2 separate regions of the Homo sapiens genome follow, and region 1 is linked to region 2. The links come from fine-mapping of genetic effects on gene expression. A gene starts in region 2. The other region holds a variant in brackets. All regions are shown on one strand. Distances are from middle to middle. Region 1 overlaps TBCEL-TECTA (TBCEL-TECTA readthrough). Region 2 holds the start of TBCEL (tubulin folding cofactor E like).

Region 1 (16,399 bases), 56 kb after region 2:
AACCATCATTCTTAGCAAACTATCGCAAGGACAGAAAACCAAACAGCGCATGTTCTCACTCATAAGTGGGAATTGAACAATCAGAACACTTGGACACAGGGCAGGGAACATCACACACGGGGGCCTGTTGTGGGATTCGGGGAGGGGGGAGGGATAGCATTAGGAGAAATACCTAATATAAATGACAAGTTAATGGGTGCAGCACACCAACATGGCACATGTTTGCACGTTGTGCACATGTACCCTAGACCTTAAAGTATTTAAAAAAAAAAAAAAGGCAGCAGCTGAGAGAGACCCAGAGACTTAAAAACTGAGACTAGTAAAGGAGGATATGTGTGGTGGAGATTGCTTATGTCTTTTTAGAGAGATTATGTGTATTAAGACTGAATTTCACTCTAGAATTTGAACTGGTCCTCAGAAAACACATCGTGAAGTTGTACTTGTTGTCTGGTATTTATAGCCCTGATTTCTCTGAGGGTATAGAAATATCATTTAGAGAGAAAGAAACCTCCATGTTTGTGGGTCTGGCACATAGTCAAGTGTACATGTTTATTATTTTTGCCTTGCCCTTGATCAGATGTCTATCCACATTGCTTGTATTTTTCAGTGTTCCCTTCATTTTGTGTTTACTTTCTCTCTCCATTTCCTCTGATAGATTGAATCTAAATTGCTTCTTTAGTGCTTACCTAATACACAGTCATCCTCTTTAATTTTAAAGAGAAAAAAAATGCAACTTTTAGAAGTCAGCATATCATGTATCTTTGGGAACTCAATGATTTCTTTTTGTTTTTGAGGGCAGTGGTAGGAAGTAAATGCATTGATTTAGGGTGCCTTTTCAGACTTTAAAATTTTGCTTATCATAAGGAGGAGTCTTAAAATAGCTCCAGTGAACAATTATTTGATGGAAAGAGGAAGTACCATTGTCAGAGACGGTGGCAATGCCAGAAACAGGTTTTCTTAGAGGCTTTTCTTTGCCTTTTCTTTTCTTTGGTACCTTATTTTCTGTTTGTCCCAAGTAATCCCTAAACTATGTCCTGGGAAATCCTTTATGATGGCAAGGATTACATTAGGAATTCCTCAAATGCTGATTTGATTGTCATTAGTGGTATGCTTTTTAAAATATGGAGAGTATGTTTTTCCCTGCTTAAGACTAATGGCTTTTCTAAATAGAGCTGATTGTATCTCCATGTTATTGTGAGAGCAGGCAGCAGCCTGTATTTGGACACCACCTCAATGAAGGCTTATTTTGTCTTGGATGCTGGAGAAATCTTAGTGTGCTGTGTCCGTTACCTCATATTCCTTCCAGACAGAGGACCTGCTGTTGTGAAGGAACATTTCTATACTGGACATGAGTCTCCTGGGGTTCTCCATATTGCCATGCTCCATCATCCTCTGACAAGGGCCGTGACACAGCACTCCTAGCACTCCTCACATTCAGCCGTGAGTCTGAGGAGAAACAAAAGGGGCATTCTCCTTCGTGCACCATGGAGAGCCTCTGAAATGTTAGCTTTCCCTGTTGCTTACAGCCTTTGTCATTCCAGTTACCTTGGACTTTATTTTGACTTCTTGCCACTTTCCCAGCCCAGCAGAAGGCAAACTACCTTCCTAATCTTGATTGGAGTCATATACAAGTATTTGGATATACTTGGAAAGGAAAGAGAGAGTGAGAGCCAGTCCTCCCAAATCATGGGCTTGGAGGAAATTTTCTTTGCTGTCTGAACTTTTGTTTTGGCCAGGGCAAGGGGCCAGTTTTATCTTTTTCGTTTTTGTTTGCTTTTTGTCAGTAAAACAATACTAAAAAATATTGAGAGTAATAAAACATTCTTGTTCACACTGTTCAGAACTGATGATAGTTAATATTTTATTCTACTTTATTTTTCATTAAAAAGAAATAATATTATACATAAAATTGGAATAGCTTTTTTCTACTACTCTCAGTCCTATTTCTTACTCCAAGAAGTAACCACCAGCAGAAATTTGATTTGTATGCTTGATGTCTATTTTTCATATTTTATATCTCCATTAAAACATAAAGTAGCATTTTATAATTCTTTATTAGTATGAATTGCTCTGTCTTCCCTCATATTGTGGCTTTTCAACCTGGTCTTTTCACCTCGTATTTTGTTGAAAAAAACTTTAAAATTTTAATGTCTGATTTGTCTATCCTTAACTCTGTGGTTTATTCTTATTGCATCTTTTTAAAGAAACCTGTTTTCCCCCAAAGTTCACGTAAGTTCCTAATTTTTTTCTAAAGGTGTTTTTATATTTATGACTTAAATCTACCTGGAATTACTTTTTATGTATAGTTTCAAATAGAGATCTGGCCCCATATGGATAATTGGTATTTATCACTGATCTGCAATGCCACATCTGTCATATGTCTTATTTTTTGTATGTATGCTTCTGTTTCAGGACCCTGTTCTATTCCATTGGTGTATTTGTCCATCCCTTGTACTATTACAACATTGGTAAATTACTTTATATTAAGTCTTAATTCCCAATAACAGTAAGTTTCCCTACCTTGTTGTTGCTTTTCAGATTGTATTAATTATTGTAGGCCCTTTTCTCTTCTATATGAATTTTAGGATCAGCTTATAAGTTCTATAAAAATCCTGTTGTAATTTGGATTTTGATTACATTGAATTTTATTTACTTACTTGAAGAGAATTTACATTGTGATGCTATTGTATATTCCTATCTGTGAACATAGAATGTTTTTTTCATTTAACTCAGAATATTTTTTATTTCCTTCAGTAATGTTTTCTAATTTTCTTGCAAAGGCCTTTGCATTTTTGTTAAGTTTCTTTTTAGGTATCTTAAACATTTTGTTGCTATTTGAAGTGAAATCATTTTTTCTGTTATCATTTCTAATTGATTATTGTTGCTCTATAGAAATGTCTTTTTTTTATGCTGATCCTGTGTCTGTCAGTCTTACATATAGAGTAGTTAATCTTCATTTTCTTTTGGATTTCTATTTAGACAGTCATATCTATACATAATTTTTATACCTCTTTTTTTTCTTGGATATGACCTCCAGTATAATATTTAAAATGCGCAGTAAAAGAGGTCATCTTTATCTTTCTCCTCACTTGACAGGGAATGCATCTAAAGTTTCAATATGTAGATATGAATGCTGACTTTTGCTATAGGGTTCTGATAGGTTCAGGTGGTTTCTATCTCTATTTTTCTAAGAGTTTCTTTTATTACGAGTAGACATTGAATTTTGTAGAATGTTCTTTTTGCATTGAGATGAGCATATTTTCTTCTGTAAATTTTAATATGATACATTTTCAGGTATTGAACCATTTTTGCATTCCTGGTATATTCAACTTGGTTGGGAAATATTAAATTTTCTTTTTAAACATGTAGAATTTAATTTTATAATGTTATTTGGGATGTTTCCATCTATTTTGATATGTAAAATTGGTCTGTAATTTTTTGTGGTTCTTGTCTGGTTTTATGAAGGTTGTACTAGCTTCAAAATTGAATTGAGTTCGTGATTTCATATTTTCTCTACTAAGTAACTGTTTCATTCAGATTTAAAATTTAATAGTCACTTACGATTTGGGGGTAGGTGTTTTAATTTTTGAATTGTTATATTTAATTTTCATTTGGATGGGCAATACTTCCACATGGAACCTGATTGGAAATTTTAAAAAGGATGTATACTACAAAGTAAGTCTTCTTCCCATTTGTATCCTTAGTAGCTAATCAAGTATTTGGCCCCTAGGCAGCCACTGATACTATTTTCTTGTTATAGTTTCCATCGCTATTTTGTGCGTAATTTTTGTACACAAGTGTTCACAAAACAATACATTCTGTACTCTATGTTTTCTTTTTCATTTAACCATAGATCTTCAATAGCATCTGTGTTGAGGGTCTTTGTGATTTTAAAAATGTACTATATCAATATTCATCTTTTTATTCATAATAATGTCTATTTCTGCCTTTCCATTTTTTCTTAATCAGCCCTGCTAATGACTATCTTTTAGTAGTGTCCTTTGTTTAAAGTCAGATTGATTGAAGTATGTGACATAAATTTTACCCCTTTTAGTGTACATTCCTGAATTTTGACAAACACTACAGTCATAGAACCACCAATATAATCAGAATATAGAACAGTTCCATCATCCAAAAAAATCTCATACTCCTCAACCCTTCTTCCTGACTCCTACCCTCTGGCCACCACTGATCTGTTTTCTGTCCCTGCTGTTTTGATTTTTCCAGAATGTCGGATAAATGGAATCATGTATGTAGTCTCTTTTTAATTGAAATTTTTATTGAGATAATTGTAGATTCACATGCAGTTGCAAGAAAGAATACAGCAAGATCCTGTGTACCCTTCACCTAGTTTCCCTCAATTGTAAAATTTTGCAGAACCACAGTACAGTATCACAACCAGAATCTTAATGTGGATATTGTCCAGTGATCTTACTGAGACTTCTCAAACTAAAACATACACACACACACTCACTTGTGTGAGAACTGTAACATACACACAAGGGCGTGTGTATGTTTTAAGTTCTGTGCACTTTATTGTGTGTGTCTGGAGGACCTCATTCAACATGAATTAAAGCTTACTATATAGTCACAGTAATCAAGAGATTGTGATACTGGTCACAAACATACAGATCAATGGAACAGAAAAGAAAACCAGAAATACACCAAAACAAATATACTTTCCTGATTTCTGAAAAAGGTAGAAAAGCAATGCAGTGGGGAAAAGACAGCTTTTTCAATGGACAGTGCTGAAGCAACTGGATCACTATAGGCAAAAAAAATGAACCTCAACCTAAATCTGTTGAGAAAAGCTTAGTGTTGGGAGAAGCTGAGGCATCATGTTGAATGATTCCTCACACTTTATTCTTCAAGACTGTTTTAGCTATTTTAGGGCCTTTGCCTTTCCATATAAATTTTGGGCTAATTTAGTCTCTGTCTGCAAGAAAACTTTGCTGGAGTTTTGACAGGAATTTTATTAAACTTATAGATGAGTTTGGGGAAGGTTAATATTTTTAGTATGTGAGATCTTCCAGTGCATGAATACAGTATGTCTCTCTGTCTAGACCTTCTCTGATTTCTTCCACTAGCATTTTGTAATTTTCAACGTACAAGTCCTATACATCTTTTATTAGATTTACACCTAAGTACAGTCATGTGTTGCTTAATGACAGGGATACATTCTGAGAAATGCATCATTAGGCGATTTTGTCATGTGAACATCATAAAGTGTACTTACATAAACTTAGATAGTATAGTCTACTACACACCTAGCTTATATGGTACAGTTCATTTTCCTGTGTGGGGTAGGATACGGATTAAGTGTTTTGTTTTGGCGTATGGGTGCCAGTTACTCCAGCAATATTCACTGGTAAGACTATCCTTTTTCTATTGAATTGATTTTATACCTTTGTCAGAAATAAACTAATCATATAGGTGGCCCGTATTTCTGTATTCTGTGTTTATTGACCCATGTCTGTGTCCTTTTGCCAGTACCACACCATCTTGATTACTATAGCCTTATGGTAACTGTTCAATTAAGGTAGTGTGGGTCCTCCAACTTTGATCTTTTTCAGCATGATTTAAGCTGTTCTAATTCCTTGCCTTACATATAAATATTAGGATATGCTTGTTGAAGTCTGTGAAACATTCTTCTGGGATTTTGATTAGCATTGTGTTGAATTTATAGAATAATTTGTCCAGAATTTACATCTTAATAATACTGAGTCTTCCTGTCCATGAACCCAGTATCTCTTTCCATTTATTTAAGTATTTTTTTTAAAAATGGTGTTGTGTATTTTCCACATAAGGATTCTGCACATATTTTGCTACATTTTATTTAAGGATTTCATGTATCTTGGCCCTGTTATAAGTAGTACTGTTTTAAAATTTCAAATTCAGTTGTTCACTGCTAGGCATAGAATTACAATTGGTATTTGTAATTGACTTTGTATTCTACAGCCTTGCTAAATTTATTTATTAATTCTAGTAGATTTTTAATAAATTGTAGACAGTCATATTGTCTGTTACTTAGCACAGTGTATGTCTTCTTTTCCAACCAGTATGACTTTTTACATTTTTGTTGTTTTTTGGACCTTATTACACTGACTTGGACCTCCAATATAGTATCGGAATAGGAGTAGTCATGGCAAACACCTAGCCTTTTTCCCTGTTTAGGAAAAAATCATTCATTACACCACTAAAAGTGATGTTAGCTATAGGTTTTTTTGTTCATGACCTTTATTTGATTAAGGACATTTCCTTCTATTCCAAGTTTGCTGGAGCTTTTCATGAATGGGTGCTGAATTTATTCAAATGCTTCTTCTGCATCTATTGAAAAGTCTATACCATTTTTCTTACTTGATGTATCAATATAGTGAATTATATTAATTGCACTTTTAACCAGCCTTGAATTCCCAA[A/G]ATAAATCCCACTTGGTTATGATGTAGTATCTTTTTTTATATGTTGGTGAATTTGATTTGCTAATATTTTGTTAAGGATTTTTGTGTTTATGCTTATAAAGGGATATTGGTCTGTAATTTTCTTATAATGTCTTTGTCTTATTTTGATATCAGGGTAGTGCTGGCCTCATTTATAAGTGTTCTTTCCTTTTTTTCTGGAAGAGTTTGTGTAGAACAGTGTTATTTTCTTCTAAGATATTTTGTAGAATTTATCAGTGAAGCCATCTGAGCCTGGTGTTTTCTTTGCTGGAGGTTTTAACTATGAATTAAATTTATTTAATGGACATATAGCATGATTCAAGTTATCTGTTTCTTCTTGAGTGAGCTTTAGTAGTTTGTATTTTTGAAGGAATTCATCCATTTAATTATGCTTGTTGAATTTATGGGCATAAAGTTTTTCATAGTATTTGCTTATCATAAGCCTTTAATGTCTATGTGGTCTGTGGTGATGTTCCCTCTTATAGTGCCAATATTGGCATCATCTTTTCTTAATCAGTCCAGCTAGAGGTTTATCAAATTTGCAAACCTTTTTAAAGAACCAGCTTCGGGTGTTATGAGTTTTCTCTGTTTTATTTGCTATATTTCATTGATTTCTGCTCATATCTTTATTTCTTCCTTCTTGTTGCTTTGGATTTAATTTGCTCATCTTTTTATAGTTTTTTTAAGCATAGATCATTGATTTGAGACTGTTCTTTTCTATTATAATATTTAATTCTATAAATTTTCCTTTAAGTGCTGCTTTAAATACATTCTGTAATTGGGATTTGTTATATTTTAGTTTTCATTGAATTCAGATATTTTCTAATTTATCTTGTGACTTCCTCTTTGACTCATTGGGTTATTTACAAGTATGTTGTTTATTTTCCAGATATTTTCCTTATCTTTCCAGGGATTTTCGTCATCTTTCTGTTAATTATTTCCAGTATAATTTCATTATAGTTAGAGAACGTACGTTTTACTATTTCAATTCTTTTAAAGTCTGTTGTGGTATATTTGAGGTACCTTTCTGGTTTAGAATATGGTCTTTCTTGGTCAGTATCTCATATGCAGTAGAAAAAAATGTGTATTCTGATATTGTTGGTGGGCATGTTTTATAAATACCAGGTCAAGTTGTTAATGTTATTCAGGTCTTTTATATCATTAACAGTTTTCTGTCTGCCGGTTTTATCAATTACTGAGAGGAGTATTGATTTCTCCAACAATAATTGTGAATTTGTTTATTTTTATTTGTTGTTCTACCAGTTTTTGCTTCATTATTTTTTGTGTACATATCTGTTTTTAGATACATATGCATTTTGGATTGTTACGTCTTTCTGCTGGAGCTCGTCTCTCCCTGTCTAATGGTTTTGCATTTGCCTCTAAGCAGCTCCCCTAACTCCTGGTCCAGAACCAGCTCTTATAATGGAATTTGGAGAACCTGTCCTGCAGTAATTACAGAGCTAGTGCATATTCCTAGTCTTAAGCACCAAGTGATTTAATTCAGTTCCTGGTGGTGGAGCTATCTTTTTATTCCTTTACTTATTAGAACCATTGCTCTACAAAGGTAGCCTTAGGCAGTGGATCTGCAGGAGTTTTCTTTTTTTCATCCTCATTTCATGCACAGCCTCTCATCACTCAATTCTACCCCTACTTCAAGCAGGGAACCTGTCTGTAGTTCCCCTGCCTCCCATGAAGCACATTCCATCTCCTTTGCCTTGTATGACCTGAACTCCTTACTGCTTCTGCTGCTCTAGATTTCTAGCCTGGAGGTCTTGTAGTTTTAGTTCTATGATTTGTATTTCTGTTCAGTTTCTGGTCCATGGAGATGCTTATCATTTTTGAGACTGGCTATATCTTCTTAGATTTCAGCCTTTTACATTTTATCAATTTTTACTCTATGTTTGGAGCAAAAGTGCATCATGTTGATAAATGTGGATTAAAATCATTCTTTTAACTGCTGTATAGTATTCTATCATATGAATAGATCACATTCTGTTTATCCATTACTAGATGATTTTTGATAGCACTTGAATTTAAGAAATAGTTGAAACAAATGTAGTTCCATGACTTAAGCTCTGTTGAAAAACTAAATGGAAAATACTAAATTCACTTCAAGATACTTTGCTATATGTGTGAAAGGTGACATTAAATAATTCTGGAGGTAGGTGAAATGCAGATATTTGGGGAAGACAAGTGGGAAACATCTATGGCTTCAGGTAAGTAGGAGAATGAGCTCTGTGATGGAACTCATAAAAAGAAAAGAGAGCCCAGGAGTGAATTTTTAGGACTCCCCAAGTGTAGGTGATAATAAGAGAAATGAGAACCCTTGAAGAGAGATTGAATGGGGACATTTGAAATGTAGGAATGAGAAAATAATTTCTAGAACAGTATTTATTATTGCAGCAAACCACTAAGATGATGAAACTAAAACAGTGATAGATAGTCTCAGAATAAAACCTGAGTTGTAATCTCCACCCTTCCTTTCACTAGCTATGAGGCTTTGGGTTAACAAACTGGGTCTCAATTTTTACATCTGTAAATTATGTAATAGATGGTTTCTAAGATTCCTCCTACCTATAAAATGTGATGCTTATGTGTTTTAATAAGTGGAATGTTGGTGACCTTGAGAAATCCTTGAGTAGGTTGTCAAGTCCCAGTTGTAGAATGTTTCTTTGATGTCCCAGGATATGATGCCACATCAAAAGTGAGAAAGCATACTATAGCAAGAGACATTAGAAAACAGCAGTCAGAAGATGTTTTGAATGTACTTTTGAATCCCTCCCAATGCCTTGGGAAACAAACTCGATAAATGTTTTGTTTTTTTTGAAACGGAGTCTCACTCTGTCACCCAGGCTGGAGTGCAGTGGTGCAATCTCGGCTCACTGCAACCTCCACCTCCCCGGTTCAAGCAATTCTCCTGCCTTAGCTTCCTGAGTAGGTGGGATTACAGGCGCACACCACCACGTCTGGCTATTTTTTTTGTATTTTTACTAGAGACGGGGTTTCACCATGTTGGCCAGACTGGTCACAAACTCTTGACCTCAGGCAGTCCACCCACCTTGACCTCTGAAAGTGCTGGGATTACAGGTGTGAGCCACCATGCCTGGCCGTATTTTTCTTTTAGTTAATTAAACTTCAAGATTTGGTTTAACCAAGTGAACCATCTGGGATTTTTCATGTTTTGTTTGTTACATTTCTTAAAGAGAGAGATGTATGTATTAGGGATTTATTTGGAAGTAATATAGCATTACCTAGAGTAAAGACTTCGGTTGATTCAATGTGTGTCTGCATTTCAGGAATGATAGATTAACAGAATTGTTAACTTGAGACTACTATGTAAGCTACCCATGAATACACCTCTAGACAGTTGTAAGGGATAAATAGAGTATTTCTGGGATATTTATGATCCCATTGTTGCGTAGCCACCTGCAGAAAATGTAAATCCCCTTATTTTTCTCTAGGATACTCCTAAAGATTGTGAATTTGGAGATTTGATGTCCAAATCTGAATGCCTTCGCCATTGGAAAGTCCCTGATTCTAGACAAAGTTTCATTTTACAATTTCCTAAAAATTATGTAAAATATATACTTTGTTTTATTTAGTTAGGATCGTTTATAAGGCTAATCAAACCTGAGAAAAAATTAATGTTTGTTTTAGGTTTTATAATAAATAGAAACACAGACTAAGACATATGGCAGGAACCTGTAGTCTTTTTCAAATAGTGTACCACATCTTCCTATTCTGGAGTACATGTGACTGAATTGTGATTGAGGAAATGCCCCCAGGTCTTGGGAATCAAGAGTGAGGATTGGCAAGATGGAGAAACAGGCATACCTCTCCTAAAAATGACCACCGTGCTACTAAAATCTGCTGTTATGTAACATTAGACAGGTGTGCCATGGACCAGGACCTGAGTGTATGAAGGCTTGCTTATTTGCACTGGGAGTAGAGCTAGCCTGGTTCCACCACAGGTGGCTTCATTCTCTGTTCCCCTCTTTGTTAGTATCACCTTCAACCCCACACTGCTGGTAGCCTGATTTCTAACTGCTTATGATTCAAAGACCCCTAAGGTTGAAAGAAGCTTTTCTCTCAGTGGGTGTTTTTATTTAATAAGAAGGGGGAAAAAACACACCAGTTTGCTTGTGGGTGGTATTCTTCACAAGGTTGCAGCTAGCATTTGGTTTCCATTTATCACTCTCAGTTGCCCACGTGGTTATGCTGGCCTTTATGCTGTTTGTAGTAAATTTTTTTTTACTTGTGATTGGCCATTTTCTGTTAGAAGGTCATGGTGGAATGGACCAGAGAACTTCTGAACACAAATACGGCGTACTTTACATTTTAGCATTTGATGATTGTAATACATCCTTATCGGTAATATTTTCCAAAGTAGGTTTATAACACTTTGCACACTTCAGAAGTGGGGCTTATGAATATTAAATACTTGTTAATGGTCAGATGAAGATACTGATTGGTAGAATATAAATCAAAATCATTAATTTCAGAGAATGCTTAGTCAGCAGAAACCATCTACCTCTTCAGAGTATACTTCAGGAAGACATTGGAACTAATGCTAAGAAAAGCTCAGGCATGCAATGCATGCAGTATAGTTCAGTTTGGATGGACTTTTGCATAATGAATAAAATATATAAGCTGAAAGACTAGGAGAGAATTGCTTTCTCAAATTTACTGGATATTTTGTAAAATCATGATTTCTTATATTTACTAATCTTTCCTGCTTAAAGATAAGTGGAAAATAAGAAAATTGGGAGAAAACAGATTATCTTGAAACCATGATTTTTATTTATGTAACTTTTAAGGGAACATATATATATATGTATGTATAGTAAATCACAACTCTAGTACTCTTTCTTCTTTTGTATTTAATAGTGAATATTTCTCAGAGCCCACATCCAAAGCCTAACCCATCTATAAAAGTCTGCTGGCCTTACCTATAAATTAATAAATAAACATTGATTTTAAGATTTAAACAAGTGGAAAGGAAGGTGCAGAAAATGGTAATGGTGATGACACAAAATAAGGTTGAAAAGTTATGAAGGAACCAGATCATGGAGGGCTTTTTATGCTTATTGTATTTGTTTTCTATTGCTGCTATAACACATTACTATAAACTTAATGGCTTAAAGCAATGCCTACTTAGTATAATCACAGTCCTGTGGGACAGAAGTCTGGGCACAGTGTGACTCAGCTGGGTTCTCTGCTTAGGGTCTCACAAGGCCAAAATCAATGTGTCTGCAGGGCTGTTTTCTATATCAGAGGCTCTGGAGGAGAATCTCTTTGCAGGTACAGTCAGAATGGTGGCAGAATTCTCTTCTTTCTTATACTTTTCATGTGTGCCATCTTCAAACCAGCAATGGTGTGTCAGGTTCTGGTGCTTTGAGTCTCTCTGACTTCCTCTTTTGCTACTAGTTGGAAAAACTCTGTTTTTGAAGGCTCATATGATTAGATTAGGCCTACCCAGATATGGGAGCCAAAATTCTGCTTACCACAATCATGTTGAAGAGTTAGGACTTTATTTTGATGGGTATTACGTGATTTTAAGTAGAGGAGTGATGTGATACAATTTGTGCTTTATAACAAACCCTGTGGCTATCATAAAGACAAGGATTGTCTTGGGGCCACCCTGAGGTCGTGGAAAGCCATCAGCTATTTTAAGAAGAAAGGGATTTCATACAGTGAATAAAGTGCTTACAAAATCTGTGGAAGGGCTGGAGGAGCAGACTTAGGCCTCCTCTCTAGGATTGACTCTGGAGTAGTACCATGGAACTGGCCCACCAAGGGCACTGCGCACCTTTGTAAGGAATCAGGGAAAGGGAAAATCAGCAAGCTGCTGTCCCTGGTGCTGATCACACCACTTTAGCTGTGATCTGGAGATCAGCAAGCTGCTGCTGGGGTCCTTGACTCTAGAAACAGACTGCTTGAACTGTGTGATCTAGTCATTTGGAAGCCTCTACCCAAACTGTTTCCACACTCTATCTACTAGATCTACTGCCTCTCTCCAGGGCTGTGACTGATAGAAGCTAAATCTCATTGGCAAGAGAGTGTGGGAAATGTATTTTTCAGCTTTTCAGTCTTGGTAGTACAGGAAGGCCTACCAGGAGGAGGTTGAAACAGATATTGAGAAAGCTCATCTAGTTTATGCAGCCACAAAAAATTGTAGCAATCTAGGTTATTAATTATAGTGGCCTGAATTTGTGAGGTGGGTGAACAAGAGAAATGCAGATAGATTGATGGGATACGTAGGAAGATAATGAGTGGGAAGTGGTAATTGATTGAATGTGGTAATTGATTGAATTGATTGAATTGGAGAAGAGATAGGAGAGAAAGAAATAAGAATGACTGTTCACTTTCTGGCTAGGATAATTAGATAGTTTCCAGTGCCACTTACTGAGATACGAAAGACTAGAAGAGAACACAGCTGGGGAGTGGCAATTATTTTTGAACCTATTGATTTTGAGAAAACTGAGACTTCAGAGTGTCTGAATTTATAGGTCATTTAATTTTTAGATGTACTTGCCCATTTATGGAAGGTAGGCTAATTTCTGAATGTAGGTCATAATTTTGTGTACAAATATGTTTATGGTTGAGATTAATTCAATTGGCTATAATGTCAAGTATAAATGAGTCTAGGAGTATACAGTTGTTACTATGTTTTAGTTTTATATTTAGATTCAGGGCTTATCCCTAGTTCTTTAATCTCATTGTTGAGTATTGGGGTTTTGTTTTTGTTTTTGTTTTTTACCAGAAGGACTCATGGTGCTCTGTTTCTTATTTCTCATTTTAGAATATCTGCTTGTTAAATTTATTTCTGAAAAAAAACTTGGTGCCTTAGTTCATTTTGTGTTGCTATAACAATACCACAGACTTGGTAATTTATAAAGAAAATACATTTATTTCTCAGTTCTGCAGGCTAGAAAGTCCAATATCAGGGTGCCAGCATCTGGCTGTGGCTTTTCTACTGTATCATCCCATGATGGAAGGAGGAATGACAAGAGAGCAAGAGAGGGCTGAACTCACTTTACCAGGATAACGGGTGGACTCCCTCTATAACAGCGTTAATCTATTCATGAAGGCAGAGCCCTTGTGACCTAGTCGCCTCTAAAAGGTGCCCCCTGTCAGCACTGTTGCACTGGGTATTAAGTTTCCAGCACATGAGCTTGGTGAGGGGGAGCACATTCAAACCAAAGCACTAGGTTAGGTATAATAATTTTGGGCCATTCTTTCTGATTCATTTATTTGGGTCTGTGGTGGTGGTGGTTTGCTCCTCAGTTTGTTTCTTTAGCTCTACAGTCTCCATTTTCATCTCATTCTGCAGTTTATCATTTGTCTTTGAGCGCTGGTTTTTATATTCAAGTACTTACTAATTTCTAGACTTTTGAGTTTTGTGGAGTGTTTTCTTTTTCTTCAGTTGTGTTTTCTTTCAAATTGAGTTCTGCCTCTGTCTTTTACTTATTATGTGTTCCTCTCCTTTATTCTTTTTGCTGTGATATGCGCTCAGTTGCCATTTTGTGTCTCATTATCTTGCTTGTGCTTGAAGTGGTCACTTGTCTTCATGTCATCTCTTTGTTGAAATGTAGTATGAGTAAATTCTCTTTGTCCACTTTGACATTGTTTCTTTTGTTACTCCTAGGCAAAATTTGAGAGCTAGGGTATTACAATTTTACTTTTCCATAGTCTGAAGGTAAAACATCTCTAGAGTTGGGTTCAGTTCTTATTTGACCACTGGGTTCTGCTGTCTTTTCTGAGATTTTGTTAAATTTTCATAACCTAGTTTCAGTTATTTGAAGGCATATACTAGGATATGGGGTGGGGAAAAGATACCCCTAGACTTTGAATCATCTTACCTTTTCAGTTTAGAGCCTTGGAAAATTTCAAGTCCTGGCAGCTTTGTCTTTGTTTGTTTTGCTTTGTTTTGTTTTATTTGCCTTTGCTAAAATCCTTACATCCTGAAGTCCCACCTAAGTAGATTTCAATCATATATATAAATATGCATATATATATAATTATAATAATAATTATTATTATTTTTCTAAGATGGAGTCTCACTCTGTCACCCAGGCTGGAGTGCAGTGGCACAATCTCGGCTCACTGCAACTTCCACCTCCCGGGTTCAAGCGATTCTTCTGCCTCCGCCTCCTGAGTAGCTGGGACTACAGGCGCGCACCACCACCCCTGGCTAATTTTTTGTGTTTTTAGTAGAGACAGGGTTTCACCATGTTGACCAGGCTGGTCTCGAACTCCTGACCTCGTGATCTGCCCACCATGGCCTCCCAAAGTGCTGGGATTACAGGCGTGAGCCACCGTGCCTGGCAATCTTATATTTTTTAATGGTTGTGTGTGCTTTAAAATAAGCTTCAGAGCAGCAGTATTTTATTTGTTTATGAACATAGAATTTACAAAGTGTTTACTCATTTGTTATTTTATTTGGTTCTTATGACTGTCTTATACAGTAGGAAGGGCAGAAATTATTCCTAATTTTACTAATGAGGAAATTGAGATCCAAAAAGACAGTGAGTTGCCAAGTCACACAGCTAATTATAAAATGGAGTCAAGACCCTGAAGACAGAGCCAGGGCTATTTTTACATATTCCCTGTTACTCCACTTATTGGAAATGATTACTTCCATCTCTAAGCACAGCAATCTTTTTTTTTCTTTTTTCTTTTAAGAGGTGAGGTCTTGCTATGTTGTCCATGCTGGTCACACTCCTGGGCTCAAGTGATTCTTCCCCTTGGGCTTCCCAAGGTGCTAGGATTCTAGGTGTGAGCCACCACACCTGGCCACAGTGGTCTTACTGTATGTTTAATGCACCCACAAACCTTATTATGACACTGATTTTAACTGAGTTAAAGCTGAAAGTGGTGTGGAGGAAGTAGGGGGATAATTTTATGTGACTTGTATTCTGATCCTTAATTAAAGTGACTTCGTTGTATCTTGGTTTTAATAAAACTAATATTAATTTTTTTCAGCATTTTTTCCCTTTCTGGTACGTAGGAAACTTGTAAGTGTCCTTGATAAAATCAGATCTAGATCCTCCAGGGCTGGCAGTGCAGACAAGATTTTCTCTATGGGAAACATGACTTTGTGGGCCCTATTCTCATCTCTGTAATTCACTTTCCTCTTGGTATCTTTTCCTTTGTATTCCTTCCTTGATCAAGAAACATGTATCCCTTACTTACCACTTTTTTCCAAGAATGTATTCTTAATTCTTCCATAAATTCTGTGTATTACACCTGAAATTAGATTGGAACGTTCAAACAAGGCATCTCTGAAAGAGCTTGGTTAATTAGTAACAAAGAACTACATGTTTTTGTTTATAAGTTATGGCTTCTCCAGGCCTCAGAAACTGCTGGCCTCCTTCCATCTTTCCATCTATTCCCAAGGGGTACATGCCTAGATACCTGCCCTTCTTGATGATGACACCCAAGAAAGCAAGTTCTACAGAGAGATTGAACTTCTATTGTCTTTATAGTGTCTACTTTTCTAGGTTCCATTTTTTTCCTAAGCCTGTTCTTATGTAATAATTGATTAACAGTAGGCATAGTGACCATCTTCAGGAAAAATGATTCCCCAGTTTTACTGTGGCCTCCCTAGGGCACTCATATTAGATCACAGAGTCCATAGGAGTCATGTGATAGAATAAGATTTTTTAAAGATGTTGAGCCTAGTAATATTGTTTATCTGTAGTTGGGAAGAAGTCCACAGTACATGTGCTAGTAGTTTAAGCTGACAGTGTTGTTTTTAATCCTTCTAGGTATCATGAACTGATCACTAAATATGGGAAGTTGGAGCCTTTGGCAGAAGTGGACCTAAGACCCCAGAGCAGTGCAAAAGTAGAAGTCCACTTTAACGATCAGGTGGAAGAAATGAGCATTCGTCTGGACCAAACAGTGGCAGAACTAAAGAAACAGTTAAAAACTCTAGTACAATTACCCACAAGCAACATGC
Region 2 (16,399 bases):
TAAGGGTGTATATAACTTCCAAGCTAATAGAAGAGAAAATAGAATGAAAAATGCACTCAAATATTTAAAAGGAGAGAATTATGAACATGAAACAGGTAAAAAAAAATATGAGTTAACTAGTAAACTGCTGGATTTAAACCTAAATATATCAGTTTTTTTTTTTTTTTTAGATGGAGTGTTGCTCTGTTGCCCAGGCTAGAGTGCCGTGGCGTGATCTCAGCTCACTGCAAGCTCCGCCTCCCGGGTTCAGGCCACTCTCCTGCCTCAGCCTCCCAAGTAGCTGGGACTACAGGTGGCCGCCACTACGCCTGGCTAATTTTTTGTATTTTTAGTAGAGACGGGGTTTCTCCGTGTTAGCCAGGATGGTCTGGATCTCCTGACCTCATGATCCGCCCGCCTCGGCCTCCCAAAGTGCTGGGATTACAGGCGTAAGCCACTGCGCCAGGCCTCAATATTTACATTAAATATAAATAGATAAAATTCTCAAATTAACAGACAAATAATAGGCTGGATTAAAATCCAATAACACGGGCTAGGCGCAGTGGCTCATGCCTGTAATCCCAGCACTTTGGGAGGCCAAGGCGGGCAGATCACAAGGTCAAGAGATCAAGACCATCCTGGTGGAAATGGTGAAACCCTGTCTCTACTAAAAATACAAAAATTAGCTGGGCTTGGCAGCATGCACCTGTGATCCCAGCTACTTGGGAGGCTAAAGCAGAAGAATCACTTGAACTCAGGAGGCGAAGGTTGCAGTGAGCCGAGATCACGCCACTGCCCTCCAGCCTGGCGACAGAGACTCCATCTCAAAAAAAAAAAAAAAAAAGAAAAGAAAAAACAACAACAGCAACAAACCAATAACACTATGCTATTTATGACAGATACATCTAAAATATAAGGTTATAGAAATAAAAGGATAGAAGATTTACCACAAGAAAGCTGATTAATATTAGGCAAAATAGTCTTTAAGGCTATTGTTAAAATATTACTGGAGATAAGTGGGATATACATAATGAGAGGAAGTTCAATTTACCAGACAGAGAATACAATTTTAATTTAATACAGTTTTTAGTATTATACCACCAAAACATAAATCAAAAGCTATCAGAACTATAAGGAAAAAAAGATTCATCCATAGACTTAGTAAGACATTTTAACACACCTCTCTCAGTAACTGATACAAGTAATCAATCTGCTTGTAACAATTGTTACAAAATCAATTTATAACAAAATATCAATAAGGATATAAATTGAACCACATAATTAACAGAAGTGATCTAATTGCTTATATAGAACACTGAACTTAACAACTGTAAAACACAAATTATTTTAAACATTCACAAAGAATGTATCCTCAACCAACAGGAAGGAGAAAGCCATCTGGGACATATATGCTCAACTGGTGGATGGGGAGCTAGAGAGAGAGAGAGAGGGACCTGTGGGCCATGGTCTTTATTGGGGTCATTACCCAAGCAGGTTTTCCCACAAGGCGTTCTAACTGATGGGTTTAAAGCAAGTTGGCAAGAGTTCCATGGGGTCACACTGTGACTGAGAGGGGCTACTGTGGCATATCTGCGCAGTCCTTGGGGGTTAAGGGGATCAGAGGGGTGAGTGAAGTAGGTTGTATCTAACCATTCCATAGGGAGGTGGTTGTATAAGGCAGATAACTGGATACACTGCATTAAGGAACTGTAAGGAAGTGGACAACTGGAAAGTGTGTCAAAGGTGACTATGTCCTGCTTCTGATATCTGGTATGAGAAAGCTAAATTTATATTTAAATGGATGTTGAAGTAACATAAAATTATAGGAATTAACTATATTTCTAACTAATTCATGAGCCAAAGAAGAAATCACAAGTGAAAATATTTTGAACTAAATGAAAATGAAAATACAACGTCCAAATTTGTAGGGTGTAGCAAAAGTAGTGCCTAGAGAAAAATTTAGAAACTTGAATGCATATATTAGAAAGTAAGAAACATATAAAATCAATAATCTAAGCTTTCATATTAGGGAACTAGAAAAATAAGGGCAAGTTAAATCCAAACTAAAGAAATAAATAAAAATTAGAGCAGAAATCAATGAAATCTGAAACAAATCGGTAGAGATAAATCAATAAACTCAAAAGATGGTTCTTTGAAAAGATTAATAAAATCAATAAGCCTCTAGCCAGGCTAAGACAAAAAGAGAGAAGACACAAATTACTAATATCAGAAATGAAAGAGAAACATCACTACAGATCCCAAAGACATGAAAAGGATAGTAAATGAATATTATGAACAACTCTGTGCCCATAAATTTGATAAGCTAGAAAAAAATGGAACGATTTCTTGAAAGACACAATCAACCAAAGCTCATACAAGAAGAAGACAATCTGCATAGGCCTATATCTCTTAAACAAATTAAATCAATAATTAATATCCTTCTAAAACATAAAGCACCTAAGCCAGCATGGGTCCATTGATGAATTCCACCAAATGTTTAAGGAAGAAATTACACCAATTATCTATAATCTTTTAAGACAATAGAAACAGGTGAGTACTTTCTACCTCATTTTATGAGGCCAGCATTACCCTAATACCAAAACAACACAAGGACATTACAAGAAAAGAAAACCATAGAGCAATATCTCTCATGAACATATATGCAAAAGTCATCAACAAAATATTAGAAAATCAAATCCAACAATGTACAGAAAGAATTATATACTACACCAAATGGGATATATTTCAGGTTTGCAAGCCTGATTCAATACTAAAAACTCAATTAATGTTATCCATCACATCAATGAATTAAAAAAAATCAGAAAATGTTTAAAGTGGAATGATAATGAAAATGTACATATCAAAACTGTGACTCACAACTAATGCTGTACTTAGAGATGTACCGCTTTAAAGACTTTTTAGAAAATAAGAAAATTAGAAAAATAACAGTAAATGAAACCAAATAATAGCAGATATGGTAATATGGTAGTTAGTAATCACCTTTGGTTCTGGAACATTTGAAATGTGGCTAGACTAAATTGCTCTAAGTGTAGATTATACATGGAATTTTGAGAATTTAATATGAAAACAATAACAAAATATCTAAATAACATTTTGGATATACTGGGTTAATAAAATACATGATTAATATTAATTTAACTTTAAAAAATATTTTTAATGTGGCCACTAGAAAAAGTTAAACTACATATCTGACTTGACTTGTACTATATTTCTTTTGGACAACGCTGATCTAAAGCTAGGATTTACCAATTTTACTCTTGGGTATATTCCCAACAGAAATGTTTATATGTGCCCTAAATGACAAGCACAAGAATGTTCATAGCAGTGTTATGCATAATAACCAAAACCTGGAGACAACACAAATGTCCAGTGGTGGAATGGATAAATAAATAGAGTGTTACTATAATATAAGATACATGTAGCAACAAAAGTGAATAAACTATAGCTACATGGACCAAAATAGATGACTCTCATAATATTAAGTGAAAGAAATCATCTCGTTTGATTTCATTTATTTAAAAATGGGGAAAAATAAGCTACACTATTAGAAGTCAGAATAGCAGTTAATTAACTTGGGGAGAATTGTGAGTGTAGGTACTGGGGGAAGTCTTTGGGAAATTGGCAATGTTCTATGACTTAAATGGGAGGTTGTTACATGCTTACCTGTGAGAACTCATTGAGCTGTGCATTTATGTACACTATGTGCACTTTTCTGTATGTTATTCTTCACAATAAAAAAATTATGAGAGGTTAGTGAGACTTCTAGCAATTTGTTGCAAGTGATTTTAATTAATGTAAGGTCTTCTTGAAAATTAAGCTTTTTGTGGCTGGTCTATTGCAAATTGCAAAAAAACAAATTAAGAGTTGTTTTTTAAAGACCATATTCTGCCCAGTAAGGAAATACTGATTCTTTCTAAATAATTCTAGGTATGACTCCCCAGTTTAAAATTTTAAAAATCTTTGTCCTTTGCTTGGTCACTAGGCTTGGCATGACAGTACAGCTCCTGACAAATATGTCAATAATGTTGACAAAAATAAAATATAGAATCTGAGAATTGCAAAATTTAAAGGGGTCATCCATTCTACATTTTTTTGACTTAGAATTTGTGTGTGTGTGTGTGTGTGTGTGCATGCATCTGATGAAATCTGGGACACTTCCTTTTAAAAATGCATACATGTGTAATATACACAATATATATAATTTCAGGTGGTTTGCCATGATAGTTTATCCAATCTCTGTTATTTGGTAGATAATGCTCCAGGCAGAAACAGTCTAAGAGGCAGAGCTGGTTAGTGGAAAAACCAGGAATGGTATTAAAGACACAGTCACCAAACCAGCCATTATTCTTTCAAGTGAAGCAGCTGCTTTTCCCTTCCCCTGTGTTCCCATCTGTGCACTGCTGTTGTTCACATTAAATTCTCATATAATTATGTCCTTATCCTCTTGTCTACTTGGGAAGAGCCTTCAGCTGTGAAGATAATTCCCTTATCTCCTTTTAAAAAATAACATCCCGTAAGTTGCCATGTATCACTGTTACCATTCCAATTACATTGTAGAGACCATGCCTTATTTGTCTTTGTTTTCCCCAAACCACCTAGCTAAGTACAAGGAACAAAACTCTTACAAAATAAGCAATTGTTAAATTAAAATGACATGCAAATAAATATCTGGCTGAAACTTCATGACAGAACTATATCTCATAATACAGGGTCATTGTGAACTAAAATGCTGATTTCAGACTGACCTAATGTGAATATGGACTCTGCCTTTTACTAGTTGTATGTTGCTGGGTGTATGACAACCTCAGTCTTAGTTGGTAAATCTGATAGCATTAAGCATACTTCATAAGATCATTGTGAAGACTGAGGGAAAAACAGTAATCTACATAAAATGTCTCAAGCAGCGTCTGGCATAGTAAAACCTTAGAAAGTAGCTATGATTTTTGTTATGGCATATTCGACTCTGAATTAAAGATCCAGTAGGAGAAACATAGACTGAGAATCTTAGAAGACTTCGAATCTTCTGATCCAGGAATTGTTCACATATTGTTTTAACAGATTCTGCCTTTGCTCAACCTATTCCAATGGCAGAGAATTAACTAGAACTGACTAAAGCAGCTCCAATTCTCCCGAAGTTCTTCCTTATTATTAGGTTGCACTGTATGAAATTGCCCTTTGTAAGTCAAAGTGATCGAATTATGAATATTTTTTTGGCTGGGCTTGGTGACTCATGCCTGTAATCCCAGCACTTTGGAAGGTCAAGGTGGAAGGATCGCTTGAGGCCAGGAGCTCAAGACCAGCCTGGGCAACATGGTGACATCCCATCTCTAGAAAGAAAAAAAAAGTTAGGGAGGCATGGTGGCACAAACCTGTAGTCACAGCTACTTGGGAGACTTGAGAAGCAGGGATCACTTTAGCCCAGGAGTTTGAGACTGCAGTGAGCTATGATTGTGCCAGTGCACTCCAGCCTGGGCGACAGAGAGAGCCCCTGTCTAAAATGATAATTAATAATAATAATATCTAATAAAATGGCCACAAATCTGCCTGTTATTTTCTCTCAGTTTAGTTCAACGTCCATTCTCTCCTTTTCCTATATGATAGCCCTTTAGAAATAATGCGGAATCAATAGTGAACATGATAGACCTACTCCTGCCTTCATTGAGGCTTACATGCTCGCCAAAGAAACAACAAGGAAATAAGCTATTATGTATAATTTTCTGTCTCAAGGAAGTGAAAGAAGAACATTTGAAGTAAATGGCTTTGTGGAGGGAATTCCTATAGAATATATCATACAGGAAGGTTTGTGAGTATAGAGCAGTGCAGTTCAATAGAACTTTCTGTGATGATGAAAATATTCTGTATCTGCCCGGTCCAATATGATAGCCACTAGCCACATATGGTGATTGAGCACTTGAAATGTAACTAGTGTCAAGTGACTGAGGAAATGAAACTCGAATTTAACTTAATTTTAATTAATTTCAATTTAAATAGCCACATGTGGCTAGTGGCGACCAGATTGAACAGAGCAGATACAGAAGAGCAAATAGCAGTGATAAATGAGGCTGGAAAAGTCAGCAGGGTCCAGATCTGGAAAAATTTTGAGAAGTACATTAATAATAATAGACGTTATCTTGAGACCCACAGAGAATCCTGAAAGGGTTTTAAGTTCCAGAGAATAACACAATCACATATGTGTTTTTGTTTGTTTGTTTGTTTGTTTTTTTGATACAGAGTCTCGCTCTGTCACCCAGGCTGGAGTGCAGTGGCACAACCTCGGCTCACTGCAACCTCCGCCTCCTGGGTTCAAGCGATTCTCCTGCCTCAGCCTCCCGAGTAGCTGGGATTACAGGCTTGCACCACCACACCCAGCTAATTTTTGCATTTTTAGTAGAGACGGGCTTTCACCATATTGTCCAGGCTGGTCTCAAACTCCTGACCTCTTGATCCATCTGCCTTAGCCTCCCAAAGTGCTGAGATTACAGATGTAAGTTTTAGAAAGATAATTCTGGCTGTCTTGGGGAGAAAGATGGGAGGTGGGTAGAGACATTGATCTTGTCTTTAGAAGTTTCATCTATAAGGGGAAAGATGGGAAAAGAAGCAGAAAAATGACTGGAGGATATCTCAGAGATACAAAGAAGTGTATAATCGACCACACCCAGCCACATACAATACTCATATATGTATTTATATACGTTGCACATAGTATTTGTTAACAGTAATGACCCATATTTCTTGCTTTTTTCCTAGTTGCTCACAGGGCAACTAGCCTCTTAAGCGTTTCTGGGTGTCCCCAAAGGTACCTGAGCTCAGAAGTAAGTCTGTCAACAGAGTATCCATGCAGCATCCACCTTGTACATTTTACTCCGCTCTTCTCATGGTCCTCACCACTGAGGCTACTTTTGACTGTGGCCATGCTGAGAGGTGACAGCGTGCTGGCAGTGGTGACAGCGTGCTGGCAGTCCTCACAGCCCTCGCTCGCTCTTGGCGCCTCCTCTGCCTGGGCTCCCACTTTGGCGGCACTTGAGGAGCCCTTCAGCCCACCGCTGCACTGTGGGAGCCCCTTTCTGGGCTGGCCAAGGCCGGAGCCGGCTCCCTCAGCTTGCAGGGAGGTGTGGAGGGAGAGGCGCGAGCTGGAACTGGGGCTGCACGCGGCGCTTGCGGGCCAGCTGGAGTTCCGGGTGGGCGTGGGCTTGGCGGGCCGCGCACTCGGAGCAGCCGGCCGACCCTGCCGGCCCCTGGCAATGAGGGGCTTAGCACCCGGGCCAGCGGCTGCAGAGGGTGTACTGGGTCCCCCGGCAGTGCCAGCCCACCGGCGCTGCGCTCGAGTTCTCACCGGGCCTTAGCTGCCTTCCCGCGGGGCAGGGCTCGGGACCTGCAGCCCGCCGTGCCTGAGCCTCCCACCCCCTCCATGGGCTCCCGTGCGACCCGAGCCTCCCCGATGAGCGCCGCCCCCTGCTCCACGGCGCCCAGTCACTTCCACCACCCAAGGGCTGAGGAGTGCGGGCGCACGGCGCGGGACTGGCAGGCAGCTCCACCTGCAGCCCCGGTGCGGGATCCACTGGGTGAAGCCAGTTGGGCTCTTGAGTCTGGTAGGGACGTGTACAACTTTTATGTCTAGCTCAGGGATTGTAAATACACCAATCGGCACTCTGTATCTAGCTCAAGGTTTGCAAACACACCAATCAGCACCCTGTGTCTAGCTCAGGATTTGTGAATGCACCAATGGACACTCTGTATCTAGCTACTCTGGTGGGGACTTGGAGAACCTTTGTGTGGACACTCTGTATCTAGCTAATCTGGTGGGGAGGTGGAGAACCTTTTGTCTAGCTCAGGGATTGTAAATGCACCAATCAGCGCCCTGTCAAAACAGACCACTCGGCTCTACCAATCAGCAGGATGCGGGTGGGGCCAGATAAGAGAATAAAAGCAGGCTGCCCGAGCCAGCAGTGGCAACCCGCTCGGGTCCCTTTCCACACTGTGGAAGCTTTGTTCTTTTGCTCTTTTCAATAAATCTTAGTACTGCTCACTCTTTGGGTCCACACTGCTTTTATGAGCTGTAACACTCACCGCGAAGGTCTGCAGCTTCACTCCGGAGCCAGCGAGACCACTAACCCACCAGAAGGAAGAAACTCCGGACGCATCCGAACATCAGAAGGAAGAAACTCCAGACGCGCCACCTTAAGAGCTGTAGCATTCACCGCGAGGGTCCGCGGCTTCATTCTTGAAGTCAGTGAGACCAAGAACCCACCAATTCCGGACACAATGCTAATGATCTCAGTGCTCTGAAAGCCAGTAATTCTTAAATTGCCAAGAAAGGCACTCTGTTCTCTGTGGAAGGGGGAGTAAAGCCCCTTCCTGAGCAACCTAAGATACAATTCTTGGCTAATCATCCCCTTTATACTCAGAGCAGTTTCTTTACCCATGACCTTCTGGCTTTTTTTTTTCCTCTCTACCCTGTCTAACCCTACCTATGGGATATGAGAAAACAAAACAGAATGACAAAAATAAGTCTCCAGGAACTGATGATGGTAAGGTGCTATTGGGTCTGTCCTAAATAATTTTGTTTCCCCCTTCTAGAAACCAATGCAGACATGCACATGCACATTACATCCCCCACGTCTTTTCTGGCACACACCACACAGAAGCACATACACTTTATGCACAAAGACATCTTCATCTCCTAGCACTTCAGGGGACATTCCCATACAAGGCTGAATTCACTTGGGGTTGAGCCAGCACCACGCCTATTCCATGTATGTTTCTGCAAAAGAAATGGACGAAGGAGTACATAAGCAATCACAGCTCAACAGTCAGATATAGTAATACTATGCATGGAGTTGGAGCAATAGCGTGGCATAAAGTGAAGTGCATGGACCCTGGTGCCAGCCTGACCTGGATTCAAATCTCACCCTGGTCACATTTACTAACTGGGTGGTCTTGGGCAGATCACTTAAGCACTCTGAACTTGTTTTCAATTCTATAAATACCATCTCTTTGGAGGGCTGTAAAAATTAAAAATAGCACATGCGCAGTGCCTGTACCTAGAAAGTGCTCAATAAATGAAAGCTGCTGTTACTACATTGGTGTTGGAAGCTCGGGATGCCACTTGTGAAGGGGGCACAGAAGAAAGGTCAGACTGCCACCATACCCTGAGGGCTCATCTAGTATAGTTCCCTCATTTTATGGTTGAGGACACTGAAGCCAGAGATAGGAAGAGACTTGGTCAAGGTCACACAGCAAATCAGTAACAGAGCCAGGCCAAGATTCCAAGTGTTTCTGGAAAGGTTCAGCCCAATGCTCTTTTCTGCAGCCCCTATTGTCCTCTGATATGACAATGTGTACTCCTGTTCTGCCCCTGGGGATTGTCCACTCAATGGGTGGGCACGAGAAAGAGCAGATGAGGTGTTTGTGGTAAAGCCTAAGCCAGTGCAGCCATCCCCGTCGCCATGGCAACCCCAGCGCGGTTGGGGAGGACCCGCTCCTCCGGCGCCCCCTCCCATTCACGCAGCGGACGTGACACGTGCGGCGGGGTCACGTGTTGTTGTTGGGCCGGGAAAGCTGCTTCCGGGTCAATGCAGGACACTGGGCTCCGGCGGCCAGAGTGGGGGACTAGGTGAAGCGGCGCCGGGCCGGGGCTGGCCGGGACCAGGCCCGAGGCTGAGCGGCGGCGACAGCGGTGGCCGGGAGGGGGGAGGAGAGGCGCAGCCAGAGGAGCCGCCGCAGTAGCTCCCCCGCCTCCCGGGCTGAGGGGTGAGTGGAGCCGGGCCCGCTGGCTCTGCCGGGCTCTCGAGGCCCGAGGCGTTCCCCTCTGGAGCCGAGGCGCGGAGGGTCGCTCCTGCAGGGTGCTGGGATAGGACACTCGGGGAAGGGTGAAAGCCACATGGGGCCTGTCTCGAGCAGCTGTGGGGATGGGAGACCTGCCCTGGGGCTAGAGGGAGGATGGGGCCTGCCTGGCCTGGGCTATGGCGGAGCTGGGAGGGTCTTGGGCTGGGCTGGGCTGGGCTGGGCTGGGGGACTGGTCCCGGGTTGGAGGAGGGCGTGTTGGGGAGCCTGCCCGGGTTCCTGGGAGAATCTAGGCGTCTCACCTTGCCCCAGCGTGGGGGATGGGTAGATGCCTCCCAGCTGTTAGAAGAGGGAGACGTGTCTGGGACTGCTGGGGAAATAGGAAACTTGTCTCTGAACTACTGAATCCCAGAAAAGAGGACATGTCCCCAGGGAGGTTTGCTGGGGGAAGGACGGGCATGTCTAGGCCCTTGGGACATTAGGCCTGCTCTTACCAGGGGCTGATAAAAGGATGTGGATGTGGTAATTGAATAAGGGCTTTTGGGAGAAAAGATTTGCCCCAAGGTTGGGAGACTGAGAACGAGGGTGTTGGACTGACAGGCGGGTGCCTTGTCGTGGGATCTTGGGGGAAGTAAGGATCTGTGTGGAGCTTCTCTGTTGAGTTCTAGGTCCGCTAGTAGGAAGACATTCTGGGAATTGGTGAAGAGAGGAGATTTAATAGTCTTTTCTTGGGACACAGTGATTCCAGAAGTTGTAGTTGAGGAAAGTTGGTTGGAAGTGTTGAACTGTATACAGTCAGTGGAGAAAGGAGGAGCTCTACTGTGAAGGTTGCTAGGCTACAAAGAGCTTGTAGGCAACGCCTAGGGCTGTTGAGAGAAGTTGGTAATGCTTTCAAGTCCAAATACAGGCTGAGCTGGGGCTTGTCCCTTGTTCATGTCATGCTGCTGTGGAGCTCTTACGTTTCCAGTAGTCTATCTTGAGCAAAGAGTATGAATAGGTGCTGAGGACTAAGGAAAACATTCACTCTTTGGGTCCTGAGATGCATTAGACCCAGATCTCTAGGGTGGTAGCTTTCAAACTTAAAAAAAAAAAAATTATGCCCCACAGTAATAAGTATGTCTTACATTCAGATCTAGTACATACGTAGGTATGAAGGGAAACTTTCACAAAGCAGTATTTACCCTTATTATATGTGATATGTTCTGCTAATTTCTATTATATTCCACCCTCTTGCATTAAAAAAAATGCTGGCTGACATTTACTAAATTGATGATTTGTGGGTCACAACTTGCAGTTTGAAAAACACTGTTTCTGAAGCACATTTATTTGGTGTCAATCAGTGTCCTCATTCTGTAAGCTTCTAAAGAGCAGGGATGATTCTAAGGAGATGGATTTTTTTTTTTTTTATTTTATTTTGGCCGGGGGAGAGGGAGGAGGGCAGCTAGGTGCAATTGATTGCTTCGGTTTAGATGTTTATACCACGTAGCATATTTGACCTGTGTTTTCTGAAGGACCATAATCTTGATCTTTAATATCTTGATGTTGCCTGATCATTTGATTGATGAAATTTTTTGTATGCGTGTGTGTTTTAGTTTCCTTTATCCTTTGCTGTGTCTGAGAAATATGAGAGGCCTAGTTCCACTTAGTTGCTTTATCACAACATAGTTAAAGAAATTTTATTTTACTGTTCCAATGTTGTGAAGATACACTGATTTTCTTTTCTGCTATTTAAAAACATCCCAAATTCTTCTTACTGCAGTAATTATTATGATATACTTTTTGCTACATGATGAAAAATATATGAAAAATACACGATAAAATATATACCAAAGCCATAGACATATTTAAAAGCCTTACAGTCTACGGCTTTGGTATATAAACTTAATCATAAACCTAAGTATAACTTTCAATCAGTTAACATCTTAATTCCCCTTACAAAAATTTTAGGTGGGGTCCTTAGAAAAATAGTATTAATTCATAATAAACATTAATGACTGTTGGTGAACAAAGTGAGAGTCCTTCATGTAATGTTAAATGTTGTAATGTTAAAGTCCTTTGAAAAGTTGTTACATAGCCTATTGCTGCAGGACATTGAGTGTCAAAGGATGTTGTCTAATTTCAGTAGGTACACAGGGTATGTATTTAAGACCAGTTTAATAGCGTTTCTTTTTTTGAGGATGAGTTCGTATTATTTGTAACATAGAATTCAAAGACACGGTCATCAGGACAGAAGTACCCAAGTTAAAACTTCATCAGTGGGGCCACATTCTTGATCAAATGCTTTACGAAAACATTCTATCATCTTTGAACTTTGTGTGTTATAAATCTTTCTTGCCTTTAATTATTTATTAGGTACTGATAGAGGCGTTATGCTGGCATATATCAGCCATCCTTTAAAAATGACCTCTTAATCAGGGAAATATTTGTTTTAAAATATTTAGCTTTAATGAATGTTTAAAGAAGATTTTGTTTTGTAGGTGCCTGGAACATTAAGGAAGATTCTTATTTATTTCATTTTTCTGGGAATCATATGTACTTGTCAATAAACAGTTACGGAGAAGTGACCCTGAGTGATTGTGTGTGCTTTTTAATAGTTTTTGTTTCTTCTCTGATCCTTAGACTCTTAAGCCTGTCCACCTGTAGCAGGCTCTTTTCTCCTTCTAATTTTTGCCTCCAAACTACTATGGTTTTGAAAATCAGATATTTATATTTGTTATATAATACTTTTTTTTCCTTTTCTTAGTGTGTGAACTGTGTGACATGTATGTTGGCTACTTAGAGACCAGTTTACTTAGTCCTGGGCTGTGTTTTAAATAAGTGAACTCTTTATATATTTTGGGCCTGGTTAGCTGTATAAGAAGTAATGTGAAACTGATAGTGATACAATTTGGGCTTAAAGGGTGAAGGAATCCTTATTTGCGATTGTTGCCTTTCTCCTACACGTGATTAGTTATTGAGATTTACTATTCCTCCCTTTTTCATGCTACCCATTCTGACTTACTTCTTTGGAATTAGAATGGTAATAACTGGACTGTTCCCATTGTCTTTTGCTTGCATAGCTTCATGAGAGAACTCTTCCAAAGGATATTGCTATGATTATTTCATTTCCCTCCTCAAAAACCATTAGCTGCTTTCCAGTACAGGCACTGAATAAAGCCCATGGTGTTTAGCTTGATATTTAGGGCCTTCTACAGACTTCCTCTACTTTTTTTCTGGCATCATCATTACACTCCTAAATGCAGTTCCTCTACCTGCCAAGGCCTCTGCTCATGTACCTTCCTTTGTGTGTAAAATTATCCCTGAAAGTCTGCATATAAAATGTTCCCTTTCTTCATGAAATCCTACTCACTCTCATTTCATTTCAGATGACCCCTCTTCTTTGAAGTCTTTGTTGCTTATGTTGTCTGTACTGCCTTTGCTATATTGCTTTGTATTATTTGTGCACCTTATTTTTATCCCTTTTAGATTATAAATGCGTGGTGAACAGGAGGCTCAAATATCCATGAAAAACTAGGACATCTAGCACAGGGTCTACCAGGGCGTAGTTCATAGACCAAGTAGATCAGAATTGACTGAACGTATGGTTAAAAATGCAGATCCGGCAAGGCATTGTGGCTCACACCTGTAATCCCAGCACTTTGGGAGGCCGAGGTAGGAGGATCGCTTGAATCCAGGAGTCAAAGCCAACCTGGGCAACGTAGGGAGACCCATCTCTATGAAAAATTAAAAAATTAGCCAGGCATAGTGGTATATGCCTGTAGTCCCAGCTACTTGAGAGGCTGAGGCCAGAGGATCACGAGCCTCAGAGGTTGAGGCTTCAGTGAGCTATGATTACACCATTGCACTCCAGCCTGGGCAAGAAGAGTGAGGCACTGTTTAAAAAAATAAATAAATAAATAAAATAAAATAAAATAAAGCAGATCCCTGAATTCTGACCTAGACTTACTGAATCAGAATCTCTGGTGGAATCTAGGAATCTGCATTTTATCAAGCTGTCTGGATGATTCTTCCATACAGTAAAAGTTAAAAGTCACTGACCTAGCCTGATGCTTTAAATTACAGTAGGTACTCAAATAACTTTTCAGCAAGTGATGTTAATGAACTGAGCAATATCATAATTCAGCAAACTGGTTTAATTTTAGGGCCTTGAAGTCAGCCTAGATTTGAGTCCTGGCTCTGTCACTAGCTCTGGGCCCGTAACCTCTCTGCTTCAGTTTTCTGATCTGCAAAATGGGATAATAGTACCCCTTATAAAAGTGTTGTGATAACTAAGTGAGATAATACATATAAAACAACACAGTACACAACACATAATAAACTTACAATAGATTTTATCTGCTGTCATGATGATGCCTAGCACAACAGTGGTCACCGCAGTAATAATAAAACATCATGAAGAGAGGTTCCAGATCAGTCATTGTTAACAAACAAATTGCTCATATGGTTTTAAGAACTAAGGCTTAAAATATTTTCTATTTTACATTAACAGATTGTGGCCCTATGTGGTGTTTAAAGTCATAAAGGTGTTTCCGCCTTCTTTAGAAGAATTGGTATCAAATTAGCATGTTAGGATTTTTCCCCTTCATCTCCCCACTGATGGAAGAATAAAGTGCAAACTTTTGAATGGTGGACCTTAGCCCCTTACCATCTGGCCCTACCAATTCTTTATTTTCTAGCCGTCTTCCCACATATACTCTATACTCTACACCAACTACACTACATTTCTCACTTTATTTTGCATTTCTCACTCATTTGTGTTTGTGCAGATGCTTTCCCCTTCTTTTCATCTAGTACATTTCTGCTGCTGTCTTGTAAAACTCAGTTTTACATGTGACTGACCTCCTTAGTGAAGACAGTCACTCCCTCAGTGTTCTCAAAGTCCTTTGTCCATGCTTCTTATATATTACCTTTGTGTACATTTGTCTTTTTGGAGGGAAAAACGATTTAATCCTGGCATGTATTCCCACCTCTGCCAAAAGGGGAGGATGTTTGTTTATTTGACTCATATCAGCTCCTCCATTTGTCTGGACGTCTCAGCTTTCACAATAATAACTAGTTTATTGACCACTTACTTCATGCCAGGTACTTAACTAGATGCTTCAAAAACTTTATTTCATGTAGTCTTCACAATAACTGTGAAATGGCTATTAATAGCTTCATTTTACAAGTGAGGAAGCAGGCATAGAGATAGGTAAGTAACTTGTTCAAATTACACAGTAGTCATAAGTGAACTCAGAACTAACTGAAGACCATGCTTTTAATCACAGTGCTCTTCTAAAAATGAAATTTAAACAGGTAGCCCATTTCCCAAATTCAGGATCTTAAAACTGTGTGAAACTTTGATTAATCACTAATCATTCTTAGGAATGTGATCCATAACAAGTACTATTGTGAAAAGTTATTTAAAACTGTTCTTGGAATAATGCGTTTCCGGTGATTTTCAAAATTTTTCTTCTCATTCTGCCATTGGTGAGCTTCATTTTCATTTCACTGTCAGAAGGTGTTGCTTCATGTCTATTGATAATGAAATTCACTTTTCCATTTATCCAATGAATATTTTTTAATCATATGCCAGGCACTGCTCTGCACAAAACTGAACTGGACTGACAAATCCCTGCTTGTGTGGGACCTATCTTCTGCTGGAGAACAAACACTGAACTAACGGATTATGATAAGTGCTATAAAGAATGACAGAGGGTGAAGTGACTATGAGTGATGGTGGCAGTAGTGCTATTTTTGATGGGGTGGTCAGAAGCAGCCTCTTTGAGAGGGTGACATTTGTGTTTAAATTTGAGACTTAAACACTGAGATGAAGCAGCTCTGCCAAGAGACAGGAAAAGGGCAATCCTGCAAATGCAAAGGCTGTAGGGGGAAATCAGCTTGGCAAGTCTGAGAAATAGAAAACCACGGAGGCTGAGTAGTGGGCCAGGAAAGGAGTGGGAGGAAATGAGGTTAGAGATGTAAGCAGTGATCAGATTAAATGAATCCTTGGCGACCATGATGAAGAGATTGGATTTTATTCTGCATGTGAAGGGGAGCCATTGGAGAGTGTAAAGGACATGATTTGACTTAAATTTTGAAAAGATCACTTGGCTGCTTTGTGGAGAATGATTTGTATAAGAGTCAAGAGGGACCAGGGCGGAGGCTAATGCAGAGGTCCTGGTGAGAAGTTGATGATGGCTTGAACAAGAATAAAGTAATAGAGATGGACAAAATTGGGCAAAATTGGGATATTTTGGATGTGGTATTGATAGGTCTTGCTGATTAGTTACACAGGGGTATGAGAAGAAGAGAAAAGTCAAATATAACTTCCAAGATGGGAATGAGTGGAAGAGGAGCAGATTTGGAGAGGGAATTCAGAGTTCTGTTTTTGCCTTCCTGATCATACTATCCACTAAGGATACCACTATTCTGAATTTTGTGTTTTTTTCTCTGCCTTTTCTTTACAGTTTTTGCCATATATGTACGCAACCTTAAATGATAAGATGGCTAATTTCCATGTTTTAAAATTTTGTATAAATGGAATTATACTGTATATATTCTTGTGATTTTTTTTTTTTTTTACCCATTCAGCATTGTTTTATTTTTCTGCCCTGTGTGAACAAATCAACACTGT

Evidence for each region. PIP is the estimated chance that this variant, and not a neighbour inherited with it, causes the effect.
Region 1: its variant is the best candidate, but not a certain one, in a credible set for the expression of TBCEL in whole blood (INTERVAL, PIP 0.79).

The regions. Positions count from the first base shown.
Region 1 is chr11:121,070,573-121,086,971 of GRCh38, forward strand. All of the region lies in intron 7 of TBCEL-TECTA (TBCEL-TECTA readthrough), which reads left to right. TBCEL (tubulin folding cofactor E like) reads left to right here. Exons shown (of 9, transcript NM_001363644.2): 9 at 16,206-16,399. Among named protein-coding and RNA genes, the nearest start is that of TECTA, 22 kb to the right of the region's middle. The variant A/G (reference allele first, on the strand shown) is at 6,418.
Region 2 is chr11:121,014,542-121,030,940 of GRCh38, forward strand. TBCEL (tubulin folding cofactor E like) reads left to right here and starts at 9,561. Exons shown (of 9, transcript NM_001363644.2): 1 at 9,561-9,750. It overlaps TBCEL-TECTA (TBCEL-TECTA readthrough), which reads left to right and starts at 9,561. Exons shown (of 30, transcript NM_001378761.1): 1 at 9,561-9,750. RefSeq lists silencers at 9,375-9,524, 9,545-9,814.